Linked DNA regions of Homo sapiens. The protein of the gene in region 1 interacts with the protein of each later gene in a pairwise test. Each region holds a gene or a part of one and is shown on either strand. Other genes may lie near its edges. The genes, in order: BSG, NCSTN, SLC16A11 and SLC16A13.

The links.
Region 2: the proteins of BSG (region 1) and NCSTN interact in binary tests that used the Homo sapiens proteins (3 or more experiments, as listed by UniProt).
Region 3: the proteins of BSG (region 1) and SLC16A11 interact in binary tests that used the Homo sapiens proteins (3 or more experiments, as listed by UniProt).
Region 4: the proteins of BSG (region 1) and SLC16A13 interact in binary tests that used the Homo sapiens proteins (3 or more experiments, as listed by UniProt).

Annotation. Positions count from the first base shown.
Region 1 is NC_000019.10:575,578-582,598, forward strand, and holds part of BSG (basigin isoform 1 precursor), read left to right. Parts: intron 1-2,196; coding exon 2,197-2,544; intron 2,545-3,922; coding exon 3,923-4,079; intron 4,080-4,801; coding exon 4,802-4,884; intron 4,885-5,068; coding exon 5,069-5,205; intron 5,206-5,737; coding exon 5,738-6,014; intron 6,015-6,728; coding exon 6,729-6,753; intron 6,754-6,936; coding exon 6,937-7,000; 3' UTR 7,001-7,005; intron 7,006-7,021.
Region 2 is NC_000001.11:160,338,850-160,346,400, forward strand, and holds the start of NCSTN (nicastrin isoform 1 precursor), read left to right. Parts: upstream 1-4,533; 5' UTR 4,534-4,547; coding exon 4,548-4,632; intron 4,633-5,626; exon of another isoform or gene 5,627-5,740; coding exon of another isoform or gene 5,741-5,765; intron 5,766-5,872; coding exon 5,873-5,977; intron 5,978-7,551. Other genes in the region: COPA (coatomer subunit alpha), read right to left, coding at 1,060-1,133, 1,332-1,445, 4,282-4,321. UniProt on the Homo sapiens protein: Essential subunit of the gamma-secretase complex, an endoprotease complex that catalyzes the intramembrane cleavage of integral membrane proteins such as Notch receptors and APP (amyloid-beta precursor protein).
Region 3 is NC_000017.11:7,041,114-7,048,583, forward strand, and holds SLC16A11 (monocarboxylate transporter 11), read right to left. Parts: upstream 2,980-7,470; 5' UTR 2,662-2,979; exon of another isoform or gene 2,407-2,661; 5' UTR 2,401-2,406; coding exon 2,199-2,400; intron 2,128-2,198; exon of another isoform or gene 1,961-2,127; coding exon 1,817-1,960; intron 1,651-1,816; coding exon 883-1,650; coding exon of another isoform or gene 818-882; exon of another isoform or gene 796-817; coding exon 566-795; 3' UTR 508-565; downstream 1-507. UniProt on the Homo sapiens protein: Proton-linked monocarboxylate transporter. It catalyzes the transport of pyruvate across the plasma membrane.
Region 4 is NC_000017.11:7,032,132-7,039,033, reverse strand, and holds the start of SLC16A13 (monocarboxylate transporter 13), read right to left. Parts: upstream 3,020-6,902; 5' UTR 2,652-3,019; coding exon 2,453-2,651; intron 2,308-2,452; coding exon 2,164-2,307; intron 883-2,163; coding exon 145-882; intron 1-144.

The DNA.
Region 1 (7,021 bases):
TCGCTGGCTGCTGTCTGAGCACTGGGGTGGGTGGGGAGGAGGGCGGGTGGGGGCGGGCAGCCTTATCCTGCGGGGCTGCTTGTGTACAAGTACCACGCGGCCTGCCTGGCCCTGAGCCCTGGGCAAGGAGGCGGAGGCTGTTTTTAGATGAAGGTGACTTTACTTGAGAACATGGGTTACGTCTCATGTGGCCAGAATCGAATTCTAACCTTTCTGGGGCTGTGGCCGAGGGTCAGGCGCCGTCCCTCCTCCTGCTGCTCATGGGTGGAGGCTCCTGGTGCGGCGGGCGAGATGGGGTGGTCCGTGGGGTGGGGGCGCTCTGCATTGTCCCCGAGGAGCCTCTATGGAGGCTTTCTCTTCCGGACGCCCCCCCACCCCCAGTGACACGTCAATACACAGACACCAGCATCATCAGCATCCGGAGGGACACAGGGTTGTTCCATCCAAAGCCTTTTGGTCCCTTTGGGAGCGATGCTGCCCGCTGAGAAGCTGGCGGACCCAGCGGGAGCACCGGGACCGGTGCAGATGGCGCCTGGGAGCCCGGGACTCCTGGAAAGGTGGCTGGGGGCAGCTCGGCTGCGGGCCCCACCTGGTCCTCCTCACTTTCCTGTGTGCCCTGCCCTGCCTGGAGGTGGGGTGAGGTGAGTCAGGGGCCAGCCCTCTCCTAGCACCCCTGGGTGAGGAGGATGTGGAGCCCAGCCCTGCAGGTCTGGAGGATGAGGAGAGGGGCTGCTGCAGGGCAGGAAGGAGCTTGCCAGCTGGGCAGCCTCTGGCTGTGCTTCCTGCCCTGACTCACCTCGCCCAGCTCTGCACATAGCTGCCAGTGTTGCAGTCTGGGAAATCTTAACTCCCAAGAAATGTAGGTTACCAGGAGGAGATCCCTTTGTGAAAATGGCACTGCCAGCCAGGCGCGGTGGCTCACGCCTGTAATCCCAGCACTTTGGGAGGCCCAAGAGGGTGGATCACGAGGTCAGGGGTTCAATACCAGCCTGGCCAAAATGGTGAAACCCCGTCTCTACTAAAAATACAAAATATTAGCTGAGTGTGGTGGCAGGCACCTGTAATCCCAGCTACTTGGGAGGCTGAGGCAGGAGAATTGCTTGAACCCGGGAGGCAGAGGTTGCGGTGAGCTGAGATTACACCACTGCTGAACAGAGTGAGACTCTGTCTCAAAAAAAAAAAAAAGAAGAAGAGGAGAAAGAAAATGGCGCTGCCAAAACTTGTCAACTGCGCCTGCCCAGAGCTCACCTGAGGTGCTCAGACGTGAACATTCCTGTCCCCGTGGCCTTGGGGGCCGTGACCTGTGCACTGCCACGCAGCCTCGGAGCCGTGTGCACGCATATGCACGTGTGTATGTGTTGTGTGTGTTTGCAGACGTGTGTCCTTGTGTGTGTGTGTGTGTTGTAGCGGTGCCTGGGGAGTCTGACCTCAGAAGGTGCTGTGGGGAGGGCTGCAAGGTCCTGGCGGGAGGAGGCACTCCCCACGCTTCCCCTTGGGCTGGGCTGTTCCTGGCAGGCGAGTGCTAGGCACAGTGTGAGGTTCTGTGTGGATTCTGCTGTGCTCCTTGGCAGCTCTGGGGGCCTTCCCTTGCATTTCGAAGGAAGGGGAGGCGTGTGGCTGGAGGTGAGAGGCCCTGAGGCCCTGCCTGGCTCCCAGCTTCCCAAATCCGCCTCTCTCTGGGTCGCCGCCCTCAGAGATTGCTGAGGACACGAGCTTTCCACCCACGGGCTGTCCTAACGGAGCCGGGCTAGGGGCTTCTGGACAGAGGCCGCCTGCCCCTTTGGGCTTTGGGGTTTGTTTTTCTCAGCAGCTCACCCGGGTCTCTGGGGTCAGGGTATCGGGCAGAAGTCAGAGGACGGTGCGCTTGGGACCTGAGCTCTGGGCAGCCCTCGGGGCTCAGGACTCCTGGCTCTTCTGCCCAGTTTCATGTGTTTTGTGTTTTGAAACCACGTGTGGTCCCACAGTTGTGCCCTCAGAAGCCGCCGTGGCTGCCGTGAGGTAGCAGTGGACGGGACGCCCACGGTCTTTCCCATGCCATGCTGTTTCCAGCCGGGCCCCATCACTCTCCCACAAGCTGAAAGGAAGTGGCTTCTCCACCAGCCCTGGCTGGGAGTCCTGTGGGCGAGGCCTTCCCCAGGAGCTGCCCTCCCAAGTGCCCCAGGCACTAACAAGACCCCACGCGTGCTCTCCCCACAGCCGGCTTCGTCCAGGCGCCGCTGTCCCAGCAGAGGTGGGTGGGGGGCAGTGTGGAGCTGCACTGCGAGGCCGTGGGCAGCCCGGTGCCCGAGATCCAGTGGTGGTTTGAAGGGCAGGGTCCCAACGACACCTGCTCCCAGCTCTGGGACGGCGCCCGGCTGGACCGCGTCCACATCCACGCCACCTACCACCAGCACGCGGCCAGCACCATCTCCATCGACACGCTCGTGGAGGAGGACACGGGCACTTACGAGTGCCGGGCCAGCAACGACCCGGATCGCAACCACCTGACCCGGGCGCCCAGGGTCAAGTGGGTCCGCGCCCAGGCAGTCGTGCTAGTCCTGGAACGTGAGTGGCGGGCACCTCCCTCCCCGCCTCCCTCAGTTTCCCTCCTGTGCCGCTCGCCTCCCGGCTCCTGCTCAGTAGAACCCAGACGCCTCCTCCCCTCTCCGTCCCGCTGTGCCCCGTTGGGCCCACCGCCTGGACGGAGGGGCCCGGACCTGAAGGGGGTGGGCTCGCCGCCTGACCACCAGCGCTGGGCGGCCTGGCTCGGGGCAGGCAGGGCTCTGCCCTCCAGCAGGTGGGTCCTCGTCCTCCCCTCGACCCTCGTGCCATCCGTTCCGTCGTTTCTGCTTCCCCGGGCGCCTGCCCGGCTCCCTCCCTGAGCGTCCATACTGCAAGCCTGAGGGGCCCTCCAAGCTCAGCCCAGGCTTGCAGGTCTCAGAACCTTCTGTGTCCTTCGCAGCATCTCGTTCTAAGGGATTTTCAAATTTCAATTCCTAGCGGGAATATTGTAAACTAACCAAGAACCAAGAGATTTGCTTGGTTGGGGATTGGCAGAAGAACCGGGGTGCTCCCAGCACTGCTGGAGTGCCGTCAGCCTGGGGCTGGGGGGATGTGGGGCCACCTGAGTGCCTCCTAGAGAAGGGCACGGGAGCCTTGGCCGGGGGTGCTGTGGCTATTTTTTTTTTTTTTCCTGGAGATGGAGTCTTGCTGTTCCCAGGTGGAGTGTGGTGGCACAATCTCGGCTCACTGCAACTTCCGCCTCCCGGGTTCAAGCGATTCTTCTGCCTCAGCCTCCTGAGTAGCTGGGATTACAGGCATGAGCCAACATGCCCAGCTAATTTTTTGTATTTTTAGAAGAGACGGGGTTTCACCGTGTTAGCCAGGATGGTCTCGATCTCCCGACCTCGAGATCCACCCGCCTTGGCCTCCCAAAGTGCTGGGATTACAGGCGTGAGCCTCCGCGCCCGGCCACCACCGCGCCCAGCTGGCTACGTTTTTAGAAAAGAATTTCCAGTTTGTGCTGGGGCTGCTACAAGAGCTCGATGCCCTGGTCCCTGCTCAGGGACGTGGGTGGGTGCCTTGTCTGTCCCCACACCCTGGTCCCAGCCTCGTGTGTCTCTGGGCAGGAACATCGCCAGGCGGGGCCTCTGGGTTCCCAGCGCCTTAGCCCAGGGCCCGCCAGCTGCCAGCGAAGGGTGCCTTCCCGAAGGGGGTGCCTTCCCGAAGGGGCCTCCTCAGCAGGCGCTGGGCTCTTCCCTTCCCGGAGGCGTGGCCAGAAGTTCCCCTTGGGCCTCCGGTCCTCGGGGCGTAAGGGCCACGGTGTATTTTTGGGATGAAAACCAGTCCTTCCCGGGGAGGAGCCGCAGGTTCCTGGGGGTCAGGCAGGCAGCGCGGGCCGTGCTCCTCCACTCTGCTGACCGCGTCTCGCCGGGCCTTGCAGCCGGCACAGTCTTCACTACCGTAGAAGACCTTGGCTCCAAGATACTCCTCACCTGCTCCTTGAATGACAGCGCCACAGAGGTCACAGGGCACCGCTGGCTGAAGGGGGGCGTGGTGCTGAAGGAGGACGCGCTGCCCGGCCAGAAAACGGAGTTCAAGTGAGTGCCTGACCACGCCATGCCGCCACCTGCCCCTTCTCACGGCTCTCTTGCCGCCAGCGGCCTGTGGTCCGTGAGAACAAAAGACCGGTCGGCAGGCTTGATCCAGGCGGAAGTTAGGGACCAGCTCCGCGCAGACCCCCAGAGGGAAACCCCAGGGAGGGGTCTGAGGGGCGTCCTTGTGAGGCAGGGGGCTCCAGCAGCCCTGGCAGGAGTCCCCATTGCTTGCTCCTCACTAGGTCCCGGGCACGAAAGGGCGCCACACTGCCAGGTCCCGGGCACGTGTGCGGGCCTCCCAGGCTCTGTGCTCCTGGCACAAGAGGGCACCACACTGAGGCATGCCCTGCTCGGACCCCAGACGCTGTCATGGCCGGAGCTTTGTCATAACTGGGGCTGGGACGGCCCTGGGAGCACAGAGCCTTTTGTTTTCAGGCTGACTGGGAAGACGGTCACAGGGTGTGGGGTGCAGAGCAGGGACCAGAGGTGTGGGGTTCATCAGTCGGGGAGAAGGGGGTCTGTTGGTTCTCTCACCTGTGGGGTCTTGCCAGCCTGGCTCTGTCCTTGGGGCCGCACGGGGACCCCAGGAGTTCTTTTGAGGTTCAGACTTGACTGGGACAGTTTTGCTTTTTCACTGTGCCGTGGTTGGGCCCCTGGAGAACCCTGGGTCCTTGGAGGCGTCCTGCAGAGCTGGTACGCGGCTCACCTGCCTGCTGTGGTTGCAGGGTGGACTCCGACGACCAGTGGGGAGAGTACTCCTGCGTCTTCCTCCCCGAGCCCATGGGCACGGCCAACATCCAGCTCCACGGTGAGTCCTGCAGCCAGGGGTACCGGGCACCACCGACTGTCGGGAGAAGTTGTTGGCCTGAGGCACCCGGCACATCCCAGAGCCCTGGCCCCCTGCTCCCTGGAGGGGAACAGCCCTCCTGCGGGAGGCCGGGGATGGGGGCGGGCCTGCGGTTCCAGGCTCCTCTCTCTCACCCTCCTGTCAGGGCCTCCCAGAGTGAAGGCTGTGAAGTCGTCAGAACACATCAACGAGGGGGAGACGGCCATGCTGGTCTGCAAGTCAGAGTCCGTGCCACCTGTCACTGACTGGGCCTGGTACAAGATCACTGACTCTGAGGACAAGGTGAGAAGCCAAGGAGGCTGGGGGTCCTGGACCCAGCCCTCAGGACTGGGTGAGAGGCCTAGACTGGGGGTCCCGGACCCAGCCCTCAGGACTGGGTGAGGGGCCTAGACTGGGGGTCCCGGACCCAGCCCTCAGGACTGGGTGAGGGGCCTAGACTGGGGGTCCCGGACCCAGCCCTCCGGACTGGGTGAGGGGCCTAGACTGGGGGTCCCGGACCCAGCCCTCCGGACTGGGTGAGGGGCCTAGACTGGGGGTCCCGGACCCAGCCCTCTGGACTGCAGCCCTCCAGACTGGGTGAGGGGCCTAGACTGGGGGTCCCGGACCCAGCCCTCAGGACTGGGTGAGGGGCCTAGACTGGGGGTCCCGGACCCAGCCCTCCGGACTGGGTGAGGGGCCTAGACTGGGGGTCCCGGACTCAGCCCTCCGGACTGGGTGAGGGGCCTAGACTGGGGGTCCCGGACTCAGCCCTCAGGACTGGGTGAGGGGCCTAGACTGGGGGTCCTGGACTCAGCCCTTGCCTTTGGTCCCCTAGGCCCTCATGAACGGCTCCGAGAGCAGGTTCTTCGTGAGTTCCTCGCAGGGCCGGTCAGAGCTACACATTGAGAACCTGAACATGGAGGCCGACCCCGGCCAGTACCGGTGCAACGGCACCAGCTCCAAGGGCTCCGACCAGGCCATCATCACGCTCCGCGTGCGCAGCCACCTGGCCGCCCTCTGGCCCTTCCTGGGCATCGTGGCTGAGGTGCTGGTGCTGGTCACCATCATCTTCATCTACGAGAAGCGCCGGAAGCCCGAGGACGTCCTGGATGGTGAGCCGTCTGCCCTCCTGCCCACATGCCCTGCTCTCGGGGTGGCCCAGGGCCACTCCTGGTCCGTCCCTGCCAGCCCCACCGCTGACCCAGAGCTTGGAACTGAGGAGCCCCAGGCAGGGAGTTGATGGGACCCCGAAAGAAAGTGTGGGATGGAGGGTCTAGCCCCGGGCAGCTGCGGCTCAGTGGGCAGCGGGACCCCGGGAGGAGGAGGCGGCACCTCCGCCCCACAGCCTCACCCGGCCCTTCCCTCCCGCTCACTTGGCTGCAAGCCAGTGTCCTCCGTGGTGAGCCGGCCCTTGCTGCTCTGCATGATCAGGCTCGGGAACCTGAGGTCAGCCATGCTGTGCTCCGGCAGCCCCTGCCTGCCTCCTCGCGGAGCCCTTCTGCCCCTTGGGCTGCGTGTGCCGGGGCGAGGCCTGTGTGGGGCCTGTGATGGCAGCTCCTGGAAAACGCTGTGGGGCAGGGGTGAGGCCCACGAGGCCATGGGGACAGCTCACCATGGGGAGCACACCTGCAGGTGGGGAGGGCTGCCTTTCCCCACAGCACTCAGAAGATGCACGTGGCCGGGGCTGATGAGCTGCCCCGAGCCACCCCTGGGGGTCACTGAGGGCAGGGCTGGCAGCACAGATGCCCCTGCTCGGGGCCTGAGTGGGGCCAGTGCTGACAGGCTGTCCTCTCGTCCTCTTTTTCATGGCGGCGGTCCTTCTTCAGATGACGACGCCGGCTCTGCACCCCTGTAAGTTCCAGCTGTGGGGGTCGGGGGTCCCAAGGAGCGGCCTGCTGCCCCAGGCCTTTAAAACACAAAGGCAGAGCCCCTGGGCTTCAGTATTCGGGGGTCCTGGGGGCCGGGGTGGGCAGGGGTGACTTGGAGAGAGTGACTTGCGGGGGACACCCTCTCACCCGGCCCCTCGTGCCCCAGGAAGAGCAGCGGGCAGCACCAGAATGACAAAGGCAAGAACGTCCGCCAGAGGAACTCTTCCTGAGGCAGGTGCGGTGGGCGGGAG
Region 2 (7,551 bases), on another chromosome or scaffold:
TTCAACGTACTCCTTGAGCAATATCTTCTACTGCTTCTCCTTTGGCTCCTCCCTTCATGACGACAAATCACAAATATATTTCTAGCACAGACACCTCAACTAGACTGTCCCTTAGGTCCCTCAAAATCACCAGAGACAAGATGGAATTCATTATCCATTCTCTTCCACTCCAGAAAACTATCTCCTCCTGATTTTCCTTTCCTAGTTAATGACACCCCCTTTACCCAGTGACCTAAACTAGAAGCCTGAAAGTCAGCTCATTTATTTCTCCTTATTGGCCCTTATTTCTCCTTATTGGCCATCTCATTTATTTCTCCTTATTGGCCATCACCCAACAGACACACTGATTCATTTCCTTAAATTCTCACATCCATCTCCTTCTCTCCATTTCAAATGCTACTACCTAAGCTCAGGTTTCCTAACTGGTATTTTTGCCTCCTGTCTTGCCCAAATCATCCAATCTTTTCTTTAATTACCACCAAGTAATCATTTTAAAAACATATAAATCTGGTATCACTCCTGTATTTAAGTTCCTCAAATGGCTCCTAGTTATCTGCATGATAACATCTAAACTCCTGAGCGCCACAAACAGGTACTCCATGATCTGGCCCCTCTCATCTTCTGCCCCTTCTCTCACCATTTCTCCAGGTTTTCTCCATACAAAACCAATAACAGCTGCCCTGTATCTAGCTGTGTCATGCTTTTTGTCTTTGCACCTATACTGCTCTTTCCTATTTCACTGTGAATATCTCTCTATTATATTGCTTACCAAACTGTACATGCTATTACTTGGATATATGTTTATCTTCTGTATTAGAATAAAAGCTCCTTGAAAACAGAAGCCATTTCTTATTTATTTTTGAATTCCCTAAAAAGAAAACAGTGTCTGGTACACAGTAAGCATTCAATAAATGTTTGCTGAGTAAGTTCTCCGGATAATGTTGTCAAAGGCCTGAGCTCTGTATGAATGAAATTTCCTGTCTTTCAGTTCCTTTCATGATTCCCAAACCTTCCCACATCCTCTTTCCTTTATTCTCAGTTATGACAGACCCTCTGTACCTTAATCTTATAGTCATCTCCTCCAGAGACGAACAGTGGCTGCTGCTTATGGAAGTCAATGCCTCGCACTGGACCTGGTGGAGAAGGCAGGCAATGTATGTTAGACAGAGCTATCCTTTCTAATCTCTAAGGTGATTCCTATTCAGGATTTTTCAGTTCTATCATTTCCACATTCTTTAATCATAGAGGAATCCATGTCAAACAAGGCTTAAAATACCCCAGGATATTATAAATACTTATACTCCTTTAACTTCCTCCTAGAAATATCTCACCATCATGTTCATCAAACTTGTCAATGAGAGTGCACATCCGATAGTCCCATAACTGGATGACCCCATTATGTAAACTAGTCAGGATCCAAGGTCTTTTGGGGTGAAAGCTGAGCCCTGAAAAAAATAGAAAATGATACAATGAGCTAACTAAGCCCCATGATGTCACCTTCTGTCAATTCTGATAAGAAAAAGAAACATCAAGGTTAATCCTAGGTTCATTCATTCGACATGCTTGATGATTTTTTACTGGATGCCAGACATCGTGAATTTTATGTTTGGTACTAGATTTTTGTCATATTCCTTTACATATTCTTGGGCTTTGCTCTAGGATACAATTAAGTTACTTGGAATCAGTTGATCCTTTCAAGGCTTGCTTTTAGGTTTTATTACAGAGGGGCTACAGCAGCCTTCATTCTAGGCTTAATCTGGAACCACTATTAAAGCAATAGCCATCTGAGGTCTCTATTTGAAGCCCTGTAATATTAGGAAGTCTTTCCTTTCTGGCAAGTAGGAACACAAACTAGTCCCAGTTCACTAGTGTGAACTCTGGGGATTGCTCTGCCTTCTCCTTTCCAGTGGTCCTTTTTCAGGTTTTGAATAGTTTTCTCACATGCAGATCAGTACTCAAACAAAGACCTGAGAAGACATCCTGCAGATCTCTAGTGCTCTCTCTCTGCAGCCCCCTCTTCTCCGGTATTTTGCCCAACAAAATCTAGCCATCTTTGCTTCCCCACACTCTAAATTTATGTCTCCTCAGAAAGACCAAGGGATTCCCCTCTTCACTGAAGCCTAAAAACTCTCTAGGCAGTAATCTACGACAATCACAGGACTCACCTTGTTTATTTGCCTTCTCTGGAGAATTATTTTCCTGCACTGCCTGTTGCCCAACATCTGTGAGCAATGTATGAACCTTTGTTTCATACATTTTGTTCAGTTGTATAGTTAAGGTGGGAAGGTAAATCTGGCTCTTGTTATTCTATCATGACTGGAAATGGAAGTCCCCAGAGGTAACAACTACTAACAGTTTGAAGTGTATCCTTTCAGATTTTTAATGCAGTTACACATAGACATAGGCTTTAGTATTTTATGAAAGTGGGGATCACGTTATGATGTTGTTCTGCAAACTTCTTCCTCACTTAACTATATAATATGGATCTCATGGAAGTACATATAAACATAACCTCATTCTTTTTAACTACAAGGGACAAATGTACTACACTTATATTATTCTAACAGGCATTTTGTCCGCCAATTTTTGGCTATCAGAAGAGCCTACTGAAGATACTTCTACACATAATCTAGCCTATTTGCATTATTACTGCCCTAGGCTAAAGACCTGTGAGATTGCTCAGGAATAGAATATGTGCACTTAACATTTTAGTACATATAGTTTAAATGTAAAAACACTGTATCAATATACAGTCTCATGAAGTTTATGGAGGTGCCCATTTTGCACACAGGCTGCTATCAGCTATTTGTTGTTTTGTTTTATAAATCTAAGACCCTCCCCCCAAAAAAGTAACTTAACTTTTTTTTTCTTGCATTTCTTTCATTACTAGTGAGGTGGAACTATTTTAATTATTTATTGAACATTTACAATTTTTCTTCTAAATTGTCTATTTTTCCATTAGGTTCTTTTTTTTAATTATGATATATAAGTACACTCAACAATGGATGTTTGCCCTCAAATATTATGACATCTTTGTTTTTCCTTCTGTACTGCCCAGCAAGAAATTAGGAGCAGAAAAGAAAACTGAAAGATTATGAAGACCCATTTCACATTTCACCTATACAGGTCTCAGAAATTCTTAATGGTACCCATCTTTCAAGGTCAAGTTTCCCAAGAGACTTAGAAACTGCTCAGAATATATTCACACATTGATAACAACCTCCAGTTTTTGAGCTACTGAGTCTACACCAGGCGCTGTAATAAATACACTCCATATACTTTCTCATTTTAATACTCTCTATAAAAGACGATTTTACAGATGAGGAAATACAGACTTAGAGACATTAAGTAAGTCATCCAAGTCACAGCTTGTTAGTGGATGTCTCAGGATTCCAAGGCAAGCCCATCTGACTTCAAAGACCAAGTTCCTAACCACTTTGTTACGCTGCATCTCACTAAATATTCTAGATACTATTTTTTCCAGGTCTTCGGAGACCTTACTTCTCTGACTTTCACATTCTAACGTTCTGAGGCTAATACTGCGATCTCAGTATTTGCCCTCCACCCCCAACGACCCACACTCGAGCTCTAGAGCTGCCGTACTTAGCAAATAAAAATACGAGATTTCCAGATAAATTTGAACTTCTGGTAAGCAACGACAGACTAAAAAACTATTCATTGTTTACCTGAAATTCAAATTTAACTGGGTATCCTGCATTTTATCTGGCAACTCTATCAAGTTGAGACTTTATTGGGGTTATAAGCCTCAAGTACTATTTCCGGGTAGTAAATAAAGCCGAATGGAGGCACTGATGTTGAGATGCTGCAGCCAAGGCCTCCTTAAGTGAGGTTGCCACTACTCGTCTCCAAAAAGGCTACTGACTCGGGTGCGAGTAACAGAGATCGAGACTCAGTTCCCAGGGCCACTCCATATAACACAGTCATCAAAAAGCCAACAGATCACAGGGCCTTTGGAGCAGAACAACACAAATCGGGAGCACAGCCAAGAGAGAAAGGGGGAAGAAAGAATAGGGAGGGGGTCTAAGGAATCCCCTGCAGTGTGGGAGCCACTTTATAGGTAAATCGAAGCCCAAGGACACACCAAAGAAGAGGGGACTGGAGAACCGCTAGCCAGGCCCAACCTCTCTCCCACCCTCCGTCTTCCTCCGGGTCCGTCTGGTGGGCCCATTTCGACCAACACCTCTACCCATTTTCTCTTCCCCGGTGTCAGCGCCGCTCCTGACATCCAACCTCCATGTTCCCCCTTTTATTCTCCACTACCTTTGACCCGCGCGCTCTTGGTCTCGAATTTGGTTAACATCTCTCAGGTCTCCGACTCCGATGTCTTAATCCGAGCCCCGACACACCCTGCTGCCCTTCGGACGCCTCCACGTCAGCGACCCTCTCCCGCGGTTTCCGGAAGCGCCTGGAAACACGAACTTCCGGTCTCTTAGGCTCCGGGCCACAGAGACGGTGTCAGTGGTAGCCTAGAGAGGCCGCTAACAGACAGGAGCCGAACGGGGGCTTCCGCTCAGCAGAGAGGCAAGATGGCTACGGCAGGGGGTGGCTCTGGGGCTGACCCGGGAAGTCGGGGTCTCCTTCGCCTTCTGTCTTTCTGCGTCCTACTAGCAGGTGAGGCCTCCCCGCCCGTGAGCTCCGTTCTCTAAGGGGAACTCTCGGATCGGCCCCGCCGCGACCGCCACTGTCTCCCTTCTGGTTCCTGCTGCCCCTCTGTCCCCCCACCCTGTAAATCCTCTTTCTTTTTCGTTCCCACGACAGAAGTTCCCCCTTTGCCTGGACCTGAAGGTCCCTTCTCCCCCGCAGCACGTCGTGTCGCTTCACTCCCTTCTCTAGGCCTCTTCCTGGACTTCGAGCCTGACCCTCTCCCACTTTGTCCAGATGTCTCGTTTTTCCCACAACCCCAGCCACCCACCCCACAGTCGAAAGGAACAGGTGTGAAAGTTAGCTTTCTTCCTCGCGTTTAGACTTTTTGAGACGAAAGCAATCTTGTTCTGTGGGTGCTGTGCGGCGCTTAAAAGGTGGATTTCTTATTTCTTCCTCTGTTGATTACATCCTAAGTCTGTGTCCCCCTGCCTTGCCTCAGGTTTTTTTTTTTTTTTTTTTTTTAATCAGTAAAGCAAGAATAAGGTAGGATATGGGTACTCTTAACTGTGAAGACCCTGAAGTAACAATTCAAGGAACTTTTGGCATTTATAATGTACTTAAGTGTTTGCTGATACGCGTTCATTTACTGATACATGGCTTTTTAGTTGGTCAAGCCCTAAAATGCAAATGCCTGTATATAACTATGACTGTGCCTTCCCCCAATTCACATTGTTTTTAAGGATCCTCAAAGGAGAAACTACAGCTGCCCCACACTGTGGGCACACAAATGACCTGCTGATGTTAAATTAACTGACCCGTGTATGTCATAAGGTTTCTCTCAATTCTGTTCACACTCTTGGAAAAATGCCTCAGAAAGTTTTCTTAGCCCAGCACCTGTGTATTAACCAATTAGTAATATACATACAGGATATACAAGCAGAAGTGTGATCACCTGTGCAACCAGAATCTGGCAAATCTAAGGTCAAACACCTTTCCTTTGACCAAGTTTTCTCTCTTTTAGTGTCACTGTCAATGGCGCTACATGGACTTTGTAATAACCCTTTGAGGCACATAGCTGGGTGCCATGTAGAACATGTATCTGTTACGATAAGTGTGTGCCCAAGAAATCAGAAGAATGGACTTTAATCTCATTTTAGAAAGTATGATATTAAATGATTTACCCAAGCCATACTTCAGGTTAATGACACGATAGAAGCTAGTACCTGTGTCTCTCAAATTTTTCTAACACTTTTTATCTTCCGATCAGGTTTGTGCAGGGGAAACTCAGTGGAGAGGAAGATATATATCCCCTTAAATAAAACAGCTCCCTGTGTTCGCCTGCTCAACGCCACTCATCAGATTGGCTGCCAGTGTGAGTTGAGATGGATTCATGTTTGTGGACATTGATATTTGTCTGTGCCCTAGATACTAAGTAACATCCATGTCCTGCTTAGGAGATTTGACACTTATATTGGACTGTATGTAGGCAGTTACAGATAACCGTCTGTCAAGCTAGGCAAGATAATTAATAAGAACTAACATTTAGTAAATGCTGCATACCAAGCTTTTTACATGTGCATCTCATACAACCCCAACCACAACCCCACAAAATAGGTCTTACTGTTATTGTCACTTTATAAATGATGAAACTAAAACTTAAAGAAGTTGAGTAACTTTCCCAAGATCATACTGGTAATAAGTGATGATGCCAGGATCTGGTGGCCCGAGCACTAAGCTGAGAGACCTTTTTTTTTTGACACGGAGTTTCACTCTTGTCCCCCAGGCTGGAGTGCAATGGCACGATCTCGGCTCACGGTGACCTCTGCCTTCTAGGTTCAAGTGATTCTCCTGCCTCAGCCTCTTGAGTAGCTGGGATTACATGCACCTGCCACCATGCCCAGCTAATTTTTGTATTTTTAGTAGAGATGGTGTTTCACCATGTTGGCCAGGCTGGTCTCGAACTCTTGACCTCAAGTGATCCACCCACCTTGGCCTCCCAAAATGCTGGGATTACAGGCGTGAGCCACCGCACCCAGCCGAGCCAGCACTCTTAACCACCCTATTATACTGTTTTTTAAGGAGAAAAAAGTCTCATATTCTATGGTGTCCAGTTATCACTTGCACTCTGAACTTTTTGGAACCAAAATGGGCTAAAGGCAATGAACTATCTGAAGAGAAGGCACTGAAAATGCCAAATAGGCTGGGCGCAGTGGCACATGCCTGTAATCCCAGCACTTCAGGAGGTCAAGGCGGGTGGATCACTTGAGGTCAGGAGTTTGAGACCAATCTGCCAGCATGGTGAAACCCCCCCATCTCTACTAAAAATACAAAAATTAGCCGGCTGGCTGCTATGGCATGCCTGTAGTCCTAGCTTCTCGGGAGGCGGAAGCAGAAGAATCCCTTGAGCCCAGGAGGCGGAGGTTGCAGTGAGCTGAGATTGTGCCACCATACTCCAGTATAGGTGACAGAGTGAGACACTGTCTGAAAAAAAAAAAAAAAAAAAAAAAGAAAATGCTGAATAATTGCAAGAGGAATTAGTGAAGCATTCTATTTATCCTTTTTTAAAACTTTTTTTCCTTAAATTCAACTGACAGGCCGTTTATTTTCACACTTTGTGTGTTCCAAAAGAAGGTTCCATGACACTGTGGCTTTAAAAACTATCAAAATCATAGGGCAGGAAAAGTAGTAATCTAAAGGCTAACCTGCTGTCTTCAGATTTTGTTTCCCATGGACAATAGCTCTGTCAGAATGTAGTTTTGCAGATAAGCAGGAAACTTGGGGTCTGATACTGGCTTCTTCATCATCAAATTGATCACCTCTGAATTTCAGTTTACCCCTGGAATAATGGTTGGAGTACTTGCATAAAGCTGAAAGTCAAATACCTCTTAATAGTTGTTTATTGATGACGCTAGGTAAATAGGGTGGTCTCAAAAGTGCTGTATAATT
Region 3 (7,470 bases), on another chromosome or scaffold:
GTGAGCCAAGATCGCGCCACTGCACTCCAGCCTGGGCAACAGAGGGAGACTCTGTCTCAAAAAAAAAAAAAAAAAAAAAAAGAAGGAAAGAAAAGAAATTGAGAGAATGCTGAGGACACAGGGTATAGATGTGTGAATAGCTTTGATAGAGCTGAAGTCTGGGCCTAGGATTCTTGTATTTCCCTCAGGCCCATAGAAGGAGATTGAAATGCAGGGAAGAGTTAAGTCTGGGAGGTCTGGGAACTAGGGTAAGGGACATGAAGATGGGGCAGATAGCACCCACTAGCAACCCGCCCCCAACCCCAGCAACACACTGAAACTGGCTGCCAGACAACTTCGCAAAGATTCCCTGTTACGGCCAGGACTTGGGCAAAGAGAAATGGATTGGCTGGACAGTCACCCTTCTTCATACCCAGGGCCTTCTGGGATCCTGTTCCTTTGAACCAGCCTTTCTGGCTGTCTTATGTAGAATATTTTCAGGGTCCTAGATTGGTGAACAGTTGGAGGTTTCAGGAAAACCCGATAAAAATTCTTTATTGGGGGAGGGGCTCAAACAAGAAAATAATCAACAAGTGGTGTCCAGAGTGGAGCCAGGGCCTCCTGGGGACAGCAAGACTGCCTGGGGAGCGGGAAGCAGCTCCCCCGTCTCTGGGGGAGGCGTGGCTGGAGGGGAGGCTGGACCACAGGAGGGCAGCGCCCTGGGCAACCCTATGTAGATGAAGCTGCCGGAGAGGATCAAAGAACCAGACAGGAGGAAAGAGGCGGTGAAGTCTCCTGTCTCATCCCTTAGGAAGCCTGAGGAGATGGGTAAGGGCATTTAGAAGCCTCGAACCCCAGGGGCAGAGGATAGTTGTAGGCAGATCTGTGAGCTCAGGTCCTTACCTGACAGGGGAGGGCCCAGGAGCCCCCCGAGGCTCATCAGCATCATCACCAGCCCTGTGGCCTGCACCACACCTCCGACGCCCACCAGCCCGGGGAGTACACCGAAAACCAGCGGGGCGTAACTCCCCGCGCTCAGCCCATAGGCCACAGCCGCGGCCAGCAGGGGACCCCCCCAGCTCTCTTCGCCGCCCACCACGGGCACCAGCCCCACCACCCACAGCCCCAGCCCAGTCAGAGCCCCGAATACGGCCAGCAGCCGCGGGAGGGGCACCCAGCCTTGGTCTGCCAGCCACCCGCAGACCAGCCGGGCGCCCGCATCCCCCATCGCAGCCACGGCCACCACCAGCGCTGCTCCGTATCCCCCCAGGCCCCGGTCTAAAGCGTGGGGAGCCAAGTGCACGTAAGGAACGAAGTACCCGCCCCCAACCAGGGCTGTGCCTAGAGCAAAGATTGAGAAGGCCCGGCGTGTGAACAGACTCAGGCCGAGGGCAGCTAGGGGACTACGCGGTGGGGCTGGGGGGTCTCCAGGAAGGACCAGGGGTAGCAGCAGGGCGCCACAGGGGGTGAGGTGGAGGGTGATCGCGCCGAGGAGGAGCAGAGCGCCCCGCCAGCCGAAAGTATCGAGAAGAAGCTGCAAGGCGGGCGCCAGGAGCAGCGAGGAGGCCCCGTTGCCGGTGAGCGCCAGCCCCACCGCCAAGACTCGACGGCGGGAGAAGTAACGCGAGAGGGTGCCTAGGGCGGGGGCGAACACCAGGGCCCAACCAAAGCCTGCGAATGAATAGGAGGGGATGGGGGCCGGCACTGGGGACGCCCGCCCCAGCATTCCCAGCCCGGCTCTCCGCACCAGGCCCCCGCCTCGTTCGCTACCCCAGATCCCAACAAGCTCCTGTCACCTCCTTCACCCTGAATGACCCGGGCATCCCACTTCCCTCACCAGCGAGGAGGCCCAGGCCGAGGTAGAGATGCAGCAGATCGCTGGCGAAAGCCGAGAAGACGAAGCCCAGCGAGGCGAGGACGCCCCCAACCATCACCACGGGGCGGGCCCCCCAGCGCGTGCTCAGGGCGCTGCCCACGGGGCCTGAAAGGGGGCGGAGTCAACGGAAGACACGCCCCCGGGCCCCCAAACTCTCTCCAACACTTCTCATTGGCTGTTTGCCTCCCTCGAACTAATGGTTCTTCTCCTTGACCTCAAGATGCACTCTTTTCTAGAGCCGGTTGCCCTTTCTCAGGTTGTCGGGTAATCAGGTGGGTCTCCCATCCCTCCACTCACGGCTCCTCCTCCCCGTTCCTGTCTCCCGCCTCAGGGCCCCCCTCACTGGCTGCCTGCTGCACGGCCAGGGCCAGGGCGCTGATCCACGCAGTGTCCTGGGCGCTTCGGTCAAAGTGCTCGGCAAGGTCAGGGAAGGCAAGGCCCAGCGAGCGCAGCAGCCCGTAGGACAGCCCGTTTATCGCGAAGGCTGCGGCCGCCACCACCCAGCCCCAGCCCCCATCCGGGGGTCCGGCGGGCTGGGGGGTCATCGCCGTCTGCGGGGTGGGGAAACATCTGTGAGAGAAGCCTCCACGCCTGTGCTTCCGCTGGGGAGCTGGCATCCCTGAGATCCAGCCTCTGGCTGCTCGCCCGGGGTGGGCCCGTCACTCCGAGCGCGATGGCGCGGGGCGGAGGGAGCCGGAGCCTGGCCTAGGGCTGGAACTCCCGGGTCCGCGCGAGGTACGGGGACGGGGACAGCCAGATCCCCAGGCCCGAGGTTCCCCGTCCCACGCACACTCCTTCCCCCTTACCCGACCTCTCCGGGCGGTGCGGGGAGGGGAAGGGTGAGGAAGGGCTGGGCCCGGCTTTCTCTCTGCTTCCCAGGCGGGCGGGGGCCCCGAAGGGGAGCGAGGGCAGCGATGGAGCCCAACTTGGACGGGCTCTCTCGGTAAACAGAGATCACCACAGGGGCCTGAGCCACCTGGGACGCGGGGTGTACGGAGGGCGGGGGCGAGCTGAAACAGCCAATCCGGCAAGCCGCGCGTGAGGCCAGACGCCAGTCCCACGGGGATTGAATTATGTACACACACAACCCCCAGGCCCGGGGGAGGGGGGAGCGGCGAGAAATGAATGCAGAGGGGCCCTGCCCTACTCACACGCATGCACCTGCCGCCTGCTGCGCGCAGGGGAGACACGTGGATTGCAAACCCCAGCGAGCCCAGGGTCCACCGCCAACGCGTGGAAATAGGGATGGTCCCCAAAACCTGAGGGGATGAGTAGTTTTGTTCTCAGGAACGTTGCCGAGGACCAGGTAAATCTCGGATATCAATCAGATCACAGACCTCCACCAAGTGCCAGCTCTGTGCTTAGAATAACAGACCCCCAGGCCGGGCGCGGTGCAAGCCTGTAATCCCAGCACTTTGGGAGGCCGATGTGGGTGAATCACCTGACGTCAGGAGTTCGAGGCCAGCCTGACCAACATGGCGAAACACCATATCTACTAAAAATACAAAAAAAATTAGCCGGGTGTGGTGGCGGGCGCCTGTAGTCCCAGCTACTTGGGAGGCTGAGGCGGGGAATCGCTTGAACCCGGGAGGCAGAAGTTGCAGTGAGCCAAGATCATGCCACTGCACTCCAGCCTGGGTGACAGAGAAAGACTCTGTCTCAAAAATAAATAAATAAACAAAAATAAAATAAATAAAATAAAATAACAGGTCCTCAAGGACAGAGGGATGAAACACGACTCCCTCAATGTGAAGACCTGCAGTGTACCAGGCACCGTTTACACATGCTATCACTTCATCTTATGATAACCCTATGAAGAAGGTGTCGCTTTTCTTTTTTTTTTTTTTTAGATGGAGTTTCACTCTGTAGCCCAGGCTGGAGTACAGTGGCGAGATCTCGGCTCATTGCAACCTCTGCCTCCTAAGTTCAAGCCATTCTCCTGCCTCAGCCTCCTGAGTAGCTGGGATTACGGGCGCCTGCCACCACTCCCAGCTAATTTTTGTATTTTTTAGTAGAGATGGGGTTTCGCCATGTTGGCCAGGCTGGTCTGGAACTCCTGACCTCAGATGATCCGCCCACCTCGGCCTCCCAAAGTGCTGGGATTACAGGAGTGAGCCAACGCGCCTGGCCGATGTCGTGCCTCTTTTATAGATGCAGTAACTGAAGCTCTCAGGGAAAAAATGGTATGGATATTTGAATTTAGGTCTGTCCAACTGTGGACCTACAAGGAGAACAATCCCAGGACTGAAACAAAATCTGGCACAGTTAAGGGAAAGATCCTGGATACAGCTTGAAGCAAACTGCCCTGGAAAGGGTGGAACCATTGCAGGGACAGAAAACTTATGAGTCTAAAATAAGGGGTCACTGGGAATAGAAAGGATTCTTGAGATCAGAATCTCTAAACACTTAGGTTAGAATTTTATTTTTTATTATGTATGTATGTATGTATGTATGTATGTATGTATGTATGTATGTGTGTGTGTATTTATTTATAGAGACAGGGTCTTGTCCAGGCTGAAGTGTAGTACTGCCATTATGGCTCACTGCAGCCTCCACCTCCCAGGCTCAAGCAATACTCCACCTCAGCCTCCCGAGTAGCGAGGACTACAGGCTCCACACCACCATGCCTGGCTAAATTTGTTCATTTTTTTTGTAGAGAGGGGGTCACAGCATGTTGCACAGGCTGGTCTCAAGCTCCTGGACTTAAGCAATCCTTCCACCTCGGACTCCCAAAGTGCTGGGATTACAGTCTACCATGCCTGGCCAGGTTACAATTTTAAAAGCAAAGTAAAAAATCAGGTCATTGAAGCCAGGTATTGATTTTTTGAAAAACTTTATAGAAAATGTCCTTTTTTGATAGGTTGACATTCTTTACCTCAGCTCTTTGAATTCAGAGATGTGTTCTTTGGTTTAATTATTAAACAATATGATAGAACATTCAGCAACTTAAGTTTGGAGCATGCATCCATTGAGCCACATGATGGCAGTGTTTCCTAATTATTGGGAAAGAATCTGCACGTAAAGACAAGAAAAACAGCTTCTTAAGGAGCAAAACTGTAAACATAAAAGACACAGCATGACTATAGGCAATGGCTCTCCATTGCCTATAGACGGGAAAAATTACATTTCTCTATTTGTACAGGTCTTTTACAATAATCAAAGGTAGACCTAGGTTACCGTTCCAAACCATCTCCCCTCTCTCCCTTTTGCCAGCCTCCCATCAGCCACTGTCTTCTCTGCTCTGTGGACATGCCTAGCTTTTTCTCACTCCTTAATTTTTGCATATGTCATGCTCTCTGCTTGAAACGTCCTGTTGTTCATGAAGGTCCTGACAGACACACCTTAGGAAAGTGGCCCCACCGGTTTCCCCAGCCTGGAGTGCTGTTATGAAAGCCACCAGGGAGGCGGAGCCAGCAGGTCCTCAGCTACCGGGGAGGGCAGGGATCCCGCTTCCTGAGAAGGCTGCTGAAGACTCTGCTCCAAGCTAAACGAATCACTGTCTCCCCATGGTGACGCAGAAATGCAGGACAGTCAGAGCGAAGACCGGGCCCTCCGCATCTGGGAGTTGTGCTAAGTGATGCTGCGCACCTTCGCAGGATGCTTACGAAGCCAGAAGGGTATCCCAGAGCCTGGGACTAGGGCTGTGAAAGAGCACATTCCTCTTCTACCTCAGGCTCCCTATATTCTTAGCAAAACTTGTCATCTTTTGCTCACGGAGGTAAAATAGCACAGAGATTAGGAGAATGGACTCCCAAGCTAGATTTCTTGAGGTTGAATGCCAGCTCTACTGTAGGGTCTAGCCCTACGGGGCTTGGCGGGTGTTTTCCCCGTGTGCGGAGATGAGAGATTGTAACAAATAAAGACACAAGCCAAAGAGATAGAAGAAAAGACGCTGGGCCCTGGGAACCACTACCATCAAGACGCGGAGACCGGTAGTGGCCCCGAACGGCTGGTTGCGCTGATATTTATTGCATACAAGACAAGGGGGCAGGGTAAGGAGGGTGAATCTTCTAAGTGATTGACAAGGTGCAGCAAGTCACGTGATCACAGGACGGGAGGGCCCTTCCCTTTTAGGTAGCCGAAGTAGAGACAGAAGGCAGCATACGTCAGCGTTTTCTTCTATGCACTGATAAGAAAGATCAAAGACTTTAGACTTTCACTATTTCATCTACCGCTCTGTACTACGAACTTCAAAGAGGAACCAGGAGTACGGGAGGAACATGAAAGTGGACAAGGAGCGTGAGCATTGAAGCACAGCCCCACAGGGAGGGGTTTAGGCCTCCGGATGACTGCGGGGAGGCCTGGATAATATCCAGCCTTCCACAAGAAGCTGCTGGAGCAGAGTGTTCCCTGACTCCTCCAAGGAAAGGACACTCCTTTTCGCGATCTGCTAAGTGATGGGTGTCTTCCCAGGCACTAGCGTTACCGCTTGACCAAGGAGCCCTCAAGCGGCCCTTATGCGAGCGTGACAGAAGGTTCACCTCTTGCCTTCTAGGTCACTTCTCACAATGTCCCTTCATCACCTGACCCTATACCTGCCGGTTATTCGTAGGTTATATTAGTAATGCAACAAAAAGTAATATTAAAAGCTAATGATTAATAATGTCTATAATAATGATTGATAATTGTCCATGATCATCTCTATATCTCATTTGTATTATGACTATTTTTATTCTATTTTCTTTATTACACTGAAACAGTTTGTGCCTTCAGTCTCTTGCCTCGGCATCTACGTAATCTTTCGCCCACACTCTACCACTTAGTAACTATATGATTATGAGCAAGTGTGACTCAACCTCTCTGTGCCTCGGTTTCCTCATCTCTACAATGGGGGTAATAACAGTAGCTACCTGATGGGTTGTTATAAGAATTAAATGAGTCACTGTGAATACACATATAAGTAAGGAACTTAGAACAGTGCCAAAGTATACGTGTTAGAGCTCATTGCCGCTATTTTCTTTCTTTTTTTTTTTTTTTCTTTTTTTTTTGAGACAGAGTCTTGCTCTATTGCCCAGGCTGGAGTGCAGTGGTACAATCTAGGTTCACCACAACCTCTGCCTCCCAGGTTCAAGTGAATTCTCCAGCCTCAGCCTCCCAGGTAGCTGAGATTACAGGTGCCCGCCACCACACTCAGCTAATTTTTTTGTATTTTTATTAGAGACGGGGTTTCACCATATTTGCCAGGCTGGTTTTGATCTCCTGACCTTAAGTAATCCACCTACCTCAGCCTCCCTTAGTGCTGGGATTACAGGTGTGAGCCACCGCGCTCAGCCTCCATTGCCGCTATTGCTGTGAGTTGAGGAACCTGGCTGGACCTAACAGCACGGCAGCCCTTTCCCACCTGGCTACCTCTGCCCATGCCTCAAGGTCAAGGCACCACATTGCCCTGGTAAGTTCTCAGTAGAGCCACATGGGTTAGAAAATGTGAATGGCTATAAAGAGATTCAATGGAAATTTCTGCTTTTCTTCTTTCTTTTCCCTTAGCATTTTCCAAAGTTTGTGTGAAAATGCTGGTCTCCCTGCCTTAACTCTAAAAACAAAAGAGAAGGCCGGGCGCAGTGGCTCACACCTGTAATCCCAACACTTTGGGACGCCAAGGCAGGTGGATTACCTGA
Region 4 (6,902 bases), on another chromosome or scaffold:
TCAGGGATGCTATGGTTGGCCACGCAGGCTGTGTACTGTACTACACCAGAGGGCAATATTCACATACACTGTAATGAGAATAGTACCCTCCCCTAGTTGTGCAACATGGCAGCCCTCACCCCCTGGGAACCCCATTCCACTTACCTGAGAGAGGAGGCCCCAGCAGCCCCCCGATGCTCTCTATCATCTGCAACAGTCCCAGGCCACAGTAAATCCTTCTAGTCCCTATTAGTTCAGGCAGCACGGAGAAGGCCAGTGGGGCCAGAGCCCCTGATGTGAAGCCGTAGGCCACAGCCAGAGCCACCAGGGCTGTGGGAGCCTGAGCTACAGGGAACAGGGCTAGTGACACCCCAGTCAAGGTGGTCCAGAGCATCAGGAGTCGTGTCACAGGCCCTGGGACTGCATCTCCCAGCCATCCGGAGACCACACGCCCCACGAGGTCAGAAATAGCAACAACTGAGAGTAGGAAGGCAGCAGGTAGTGGGTCCCAATCCAGGTCCTGGAGATGGGCCACCAGGTGGAGGTAGGGAATGAAGTAGCCAGTGTTGATCAGGGTGAGGGCAACAGTGTAACGGAGGAAGGGGCCATGATGGAGGAGAGAGGTGAGTTGGGCCCTGGGACCACCCACAGCAGGGTCCTCAGCCAGGGAGGGTGGGCGGAGGAGAGCACCACAGGCCACTAGGTGGAGGGAGAGGGCAGACACCAGCAGCAGGGACCCCCTCCAGGCGTAGTGGCTGAGCAGCCACTGGAAAAAGGGGGCAAATGTGAAGGAGGAGAGGCCCACGCCTGTCAGTGCCAGCCCGGTGGCCAGGGATCGTCGGCGAGAGAAATAACAGGACAGGCAGGCCAGGGTCGGAGCGAAGGTCAAAGCCCAGCCAGAGCCTGTCAAAAAGGAAGAAGTGGTGTTGAGAACTCTTAGGGAGCTCAAGGCACACAGTAATCCCCGCATTGCCCAGCAGCAGAATGTAGCACTTGCTTCGGAGTCCCACAGACCTGGGATACAATCTTGGCTTGGATACTTCATAGCTGTGTAACCTTGTGTGTTTTACTTAACACCCCCAGCCTCAACCTTCTCAACTGCAAAATGTAATAATACACTTTTTGGGATTGTGGAAGATTAGAGACAAAGTTTGTAAGGTAACTAGCACAGAACTTTGGAGTTAGACCTGGGCTCTACCATTTCTAGCTGTGTGACCTTCATTTGCCAAGTTGTATAAGCTTTAAAGCTTTTCCCCAGCTGTAAATCCAATAATGATATCGATTTCACAGTCACAGTACCTAGCACCTTTTTTTTTCTTTTTTTTTTTTGAGACGGAGTCTCGCTCTGTCGCCCAGGCTGGAGTGCAGTGGTGCAATCTCGGCTCACTGCAAGCTCTGCTTCCCGGGTTCACACCATTCTCCTGCCTCAGCCTCCCGAGTAGCTGGGACTACAGTCACCTGCCACCACGCCCAGCTAATTTTTTGTGTTTTTAGTAGAGACGTGATTTCACCGTGTTAGCCAGGATGGTCTTGATCTCCTGACCTCGTGATCCGCCCGCCTCGGCCTCCCAAAGTGCTGGGATTACAGGCGTGAGCCACCGTGCCTGGCCCCTAGCACCATTTTATAGTAATTCTTCCTTTTACACTCCAGTCCCATTAGCCCTGGGCTTCTGGGCTTGTATACTTGGTTTCATCTTTTTTTTTTTTTTTTTTGAGACAGAATCTTGCTCTGTCGCCCAGGCTGGAGTGCAGTGGTGCGATCTTGGCTCACTGCAACCTCCGCCTCCCGGGTTCAAGCGATTCTCCTGCCTCAGCCTCCCGAGTAACTGGGATTAGCGCCACCAGGCCCGGCTAATTTTTGTATTTTTGTAGAGACGGGGTTTCACCATGTTGGCCAGGCTGGTCTCAAACTCCTGACCTCGTGATCCACCCGCCTCGGCTTCCCAAAGTGCTGGGATTACAGGCGTGAGCCACCGTGCCCGGCCAGGTTTCATCATCCTTGAATTTCCTAATTCCTCACCATGTTTGTCGCTTTAGTCATTCCTATTAAGAATTCCCTTCTGGGTACAGGTGCTAGCTAAACTTTCCCTCAGCTTCTCCCCGAACCCTTTGGAAGGAGCAGGAAGGAGGTGAACATCCAACGATCTAAGCATTTGACTCTCCTGCCCTTGTGCAGGCTCTCACCTGACAGCAACCCAATACTCAGGTATAGGTGGGTCAAGGAAGTAGCAAAAGAGGCGAGCAGCATCCCCAGCGCAGCCAAGATGCCTCCAGTCATCACCACGGGCCTGGGCCCGAACTTCGTGCTCAGGGCACTGCCTACCGGGCCTGAGGAAGTGGAAGGGGCGCTGCGAGAAGATCTCAGGGGTCTCCCCCCCAGCATCTCCCGCCCCTCGCCCTTCCACTTCCCAGTCGCCGCATTCCCTCTCCCTTCCGAGGGTCGCAGTCCGCCAGATCCAGGCGCCGCACTCACTCCCAAACTGCTGCACCGCGATTCCTATGGAGGCGATCCAGGAGACGCGCGCTGCCTGCTCCTCAAACGCCGCCACAAACTCCACGAAGAAGACCCCAAAGGAGCGGAGCACCCCAAACACAAGCGCCGACTGGAAGAACGCTGAGAGCACCACCACCCATCCCCAGCCCCCGTCGGGGGGCTCTGTCCTGCGCGCCATCTAAGCGGTAACAGGGCTGCTGCCACCCAGAGCCTCTGCAGGAGCCGGGTTCTGGACGCCGCACCTCTGCACACCCACCCCCGCTGCCGGGTGGCTCGGGGCCGAGAGGGGTTGGAGAGGCAGGTAGAGAGGAAGGGCCCGACGAGGCGGCGAGAGGCCCCTGCACCTTTTCCCAAGGCGGGGCGATATAGGACTGAAGACCTGGCCCGCGCTGGCCGGGCCAGAGTCTCCCGGGGGCGTGGTTCCGCGAGCTCGGAGCTGAGCTAGTTCAAGCCGGGGCCGGATCGGTCCCGGTTCGGTGTTCGGCTGGGAGCCAGAGGGTGGAACTGAGTTTGGGCCCCACCCCTGGAGCGCGCCAGTTTCCGTGTAGATGATCTATTTTATCACTGGGGTGTCCGGGCCGGGCCACCCTGGAGCTCGCCAATGAGGACGCGGGGCTCCCGGGCAGGGGCGGAACGAGAAGGGCAGGGCGGGATTTAGGCATTGTTGGGGACCAGCAGTGAATGGGCGCATGCGTAAGGAGGGGCGTTAGGAGGCTGACTAGGTAGGGCCCCACGTGACGCGGGGACTGCCAGGAAGCTTCCGTCTCCTCTTCACCTAGCGGGCCAAGTCATCCCCGTTTCAGCACCCAGAGCCACACGGAAGGGTTAGTGGTGGGTAAACTGGGTCTGGAGAGGAGAGGACTCTCTTGCTTTAATGAGGGGTCCAGGAATTGCAAGGCCCTGTTGGGGGTAGGGGAGGGGTTAGGAGATGAGACTCAAACGAAGTGTTTGGCGCAGCGCCTGAAGCCACTAACACGCAGCCCTAGGCACGCAGACCTAGAAGCCTGGATCCCTGAGAAGTTCAACGGCTAAGGGAAGAGAGAAGGGGAATGAGTTGGACTCCTGGCGTTCATTTCTGTAGTGGGAACTCGTTCCTGTCACTTCTGTTCCCACTAACAGGAAACCTACAGGTCACAGAGACCAAAAATAACTGAGGAGAGGAAGGGCGGCTGTAAGCTCACACAGGGCCCCACCAACACCACCTACCTCTTCCTCACTGGGGCTGGAACCTTTTCCTCTGCCCTCTAGTAACAACCACTTCCTAACCACCTTTTTTGATCTGATGGTGGGGTAGACTAAAGAGACAAACTATGACCCTGGCCACTGGAGCAGTCAGCCCCCTCTTACCCAAGTAGTCCTCAGGCCCCTAGCAAACACTCCCCAGTCCTTCCCAGTCTCCATAACACCAATGGCTTGGATTTCCTGTTCCTTCATTATAAGCCATACTTCCCAGGACCCTGACCTTGAAACCGTGGACTCAATGTTCACTCCCAGATTACTGGGGAAAGCAGCAAACAAGAAGTGGAGGCAGGGAGGGAGGTGTGTAGTCTTAAAAGACATATTGAGCCTTAAATAATTTTATATGTGGGAAATAAAAGTAATCATCAATAATACACATATATACTTTCTAAGAGTCAAAATGTCGGCTGGTGGGGAATATGCCAAAGATACAGAAATTGCTGTGGCTGTATTACATAGTGATTAAGAACTCGGGTCTTTAGAATCAGATCACAGTTCCAGTCTTTTATTTATTTATTTATTTATTTATTTATTTATTTATTTATTTATTTTGAGATGGAGTCTTGCTCTGTGGCCCAGGCTGGAGTGCAGTGGCATGATCTTGGCTCACTGCAACCTCCACCTCCCGGGTTCAAGTGATTCTCCTGCCTCAGTCTCCTGAGTTTCTGGGATTACAGGCTCCCACCACAACGCCCAGTTAATTTTGGTATTTTTAGTAGAGACGAGGTCTCACCATGTTGGCCACGCTGGTCTCGAACTCCTGACCTCAAGTGATCCACCAGCCTTGGCCTCCCAAAGTTCTGGGATTACAGGCGTGAGCCACCGTGCCTGGCCCAGTTCCAATCTTGACTTTATTACTTAACTCGATCAAGATGCTGAATCTCTCAGTTGGTTTCCCCATCTGTAAACTGGGGATAATAGTACCTACTATTAAGCGTTGCCCAAGGGGTTCAGTTAGAAAATCCATGCACTAAAAATGCTTAGTTTATGTGCTGACATGCAGCAGGAGCCAAGTAATATTAGCTTAGCTGGTCTTATTGGTGTTATTTTCAACAGGGGATAAGCTGCTGTAGTGGGAAGTGAAGGAAGGTTTTAGTTTAGTGTTTTTTTTTTTGTTTTTTGTTTTTTGTTTTGAGATGGAGTTTTGCTCTTGTCTCCCAGGCTGGAGTGCAATGGCATGATCTCGGCTCACTGCGACCTCCACCTCCTGGGTTCAAGTGATTCTCCTGCCTCAGTCTCCCGAATAGGTGGGACTACAGGTGTTTGCCACTATGCCTGGCTAAATTTTTTGTATTTTTAGTAGAGACAGGGTTTCACCATTTTGGTCAGGCTGGTCTCGAACTCCTGACCTCAGGTGATCTGCCTGCCTGGGCCTCCCAAAGTGCTGGGATTATAGGCGTGAGCCACCATGCCCTGCCTAGTTTTTGTTTTTTGATTAAAAAAAAAAAAAATCTAATCCAGGTCATGGGTTTAAAAAGATTGAGAAACGACCACTGCGATGGTTTGAATGTTACCTCCAAAAACTCATATTGAAACTTAATCCCCAACTTGGCGGTACTGAGAGGTGGAAACTTTAAAAGGTGATTGGATGGGATTAATGGATTAATTAATCCCCATGAATTAGCCCACCATAATGGATTAATAGGTTAACAGATTAACCCCATCATAAAGGACTAAAAGGTTAATAGATTAATGGGTTATCATGGGAGGGGAATTGTCGGCTTTTTCAGACAGATCCAAGCTAGAACATTAGCATGCTTAGCCCCCTTTGCCATGTGACACCCTGTGCCACAGAGAGTCCATATCAGCAAGAAAACCCTCACTAGAGGGTGAGGCCCCTGGACCTTGGATTTCTCAGCCTCCATACTATAAGAAATAAATTCATTTTCTTTATAAATTACCCAGTTTCAGATAATCTGTTGTAAGCAACAGAAAATGAACTGAATGAGACAGAAAACTGGTACCAAGAAGTGGGGTGTTGCTGATAATGAATAACGGAAAATGATGAAGTGGCTTTGGAAGTGGGTGATGGGCAGAGGCTGGAAGCATTTGGAGGAGTAGGCTAGAAAAAGCCTAGATTCTGGAGAGGTCTTAGAAGACAAGAAGACTAAGAAAAGTTTGGAATTCTTTAGAGATTGGTTAAGTGTTTATGACTAGAATGTTGATAGAAATATGGAAGCAGCTGGGCGGGGTGGCTCACGCCTGTAATCCCAGCACTTTGGAAAGCTGAGGTGGGCGGATCATGAGGTCAGGAGATTGAGACCATCCTGGCCAACATGGTGAAACCTGTCTCTACTAAAAATACAAAAATTAGCTGGGCATGGTAGCACTCGCCTGTAATCCCAGCTACTCGGGAGGGTGAGGCAGGAGAATCGCTTGAACCAGGGAGTCGGAGGTTGCAGTGAGCCGAGATCGTGCCACTGCACTCCAGCCTGGGCGAAAGAGCGAGACTCCATCTCAAAAAAAAAAAAAAAAAAAAGAAATATGGAAGCAAAAGCCATTCTGATGAGCTTTCAGATGGAACTGAGGAGCAAGGTATTGAAAACTGGAGTAAAGGCCATCCTTGTTACGAACTGGCAAAGAGCTTGGCTAAACTGTATCCATGCCCAAGGGCTTTGTGGAAGGCTGAAGTTGAGAGTGATGAACTAGGGTATCTGGCAGGCAGAAGACATTTCTAAGCAGCAAAATGCTGAGGCTGCTGTGTGGTTGCTTCTAACTGCTTAAGATGATCTCACAGAGAAAAGAAACAGAGTGGAAACATTTGGAAAATTCTCAGCCTGGCCATGTGGTAGAGAATGAAAGAGCATTTTCAGGAGATGAATCCAAGGGCGTGGCCAAGCCACTTCTTGCTAAAAAGATTAACATGGCTAAAAAGGAGCCAGGTGCTCTTCCTCAAGAAAATGGAAGAAAGTCCCTGAACTCATTTCAGAGGTCTTTGAGGCTGCCCCTCCCATCACAGGCCCAGAGGCCTTGGAGGACAGAGGGTTTCAGGGTACAGGCCCTGGGTGCTCTCCATGGGCTCACCGCCCAGGGCAACCTCAGGACTCTGCACCCCACACCCCAGTGTAGCACTCTGTGGCCACCCCAGCCTGGTGGTGGCTTAAGTGGCCCCAGGTGTTCCTTGTGTGTGTGTGTGTGTGTGTGTGTGTGTGTGTGTGTGTGTTGCTTGTATTGAAGCTCCAGAAGGTGC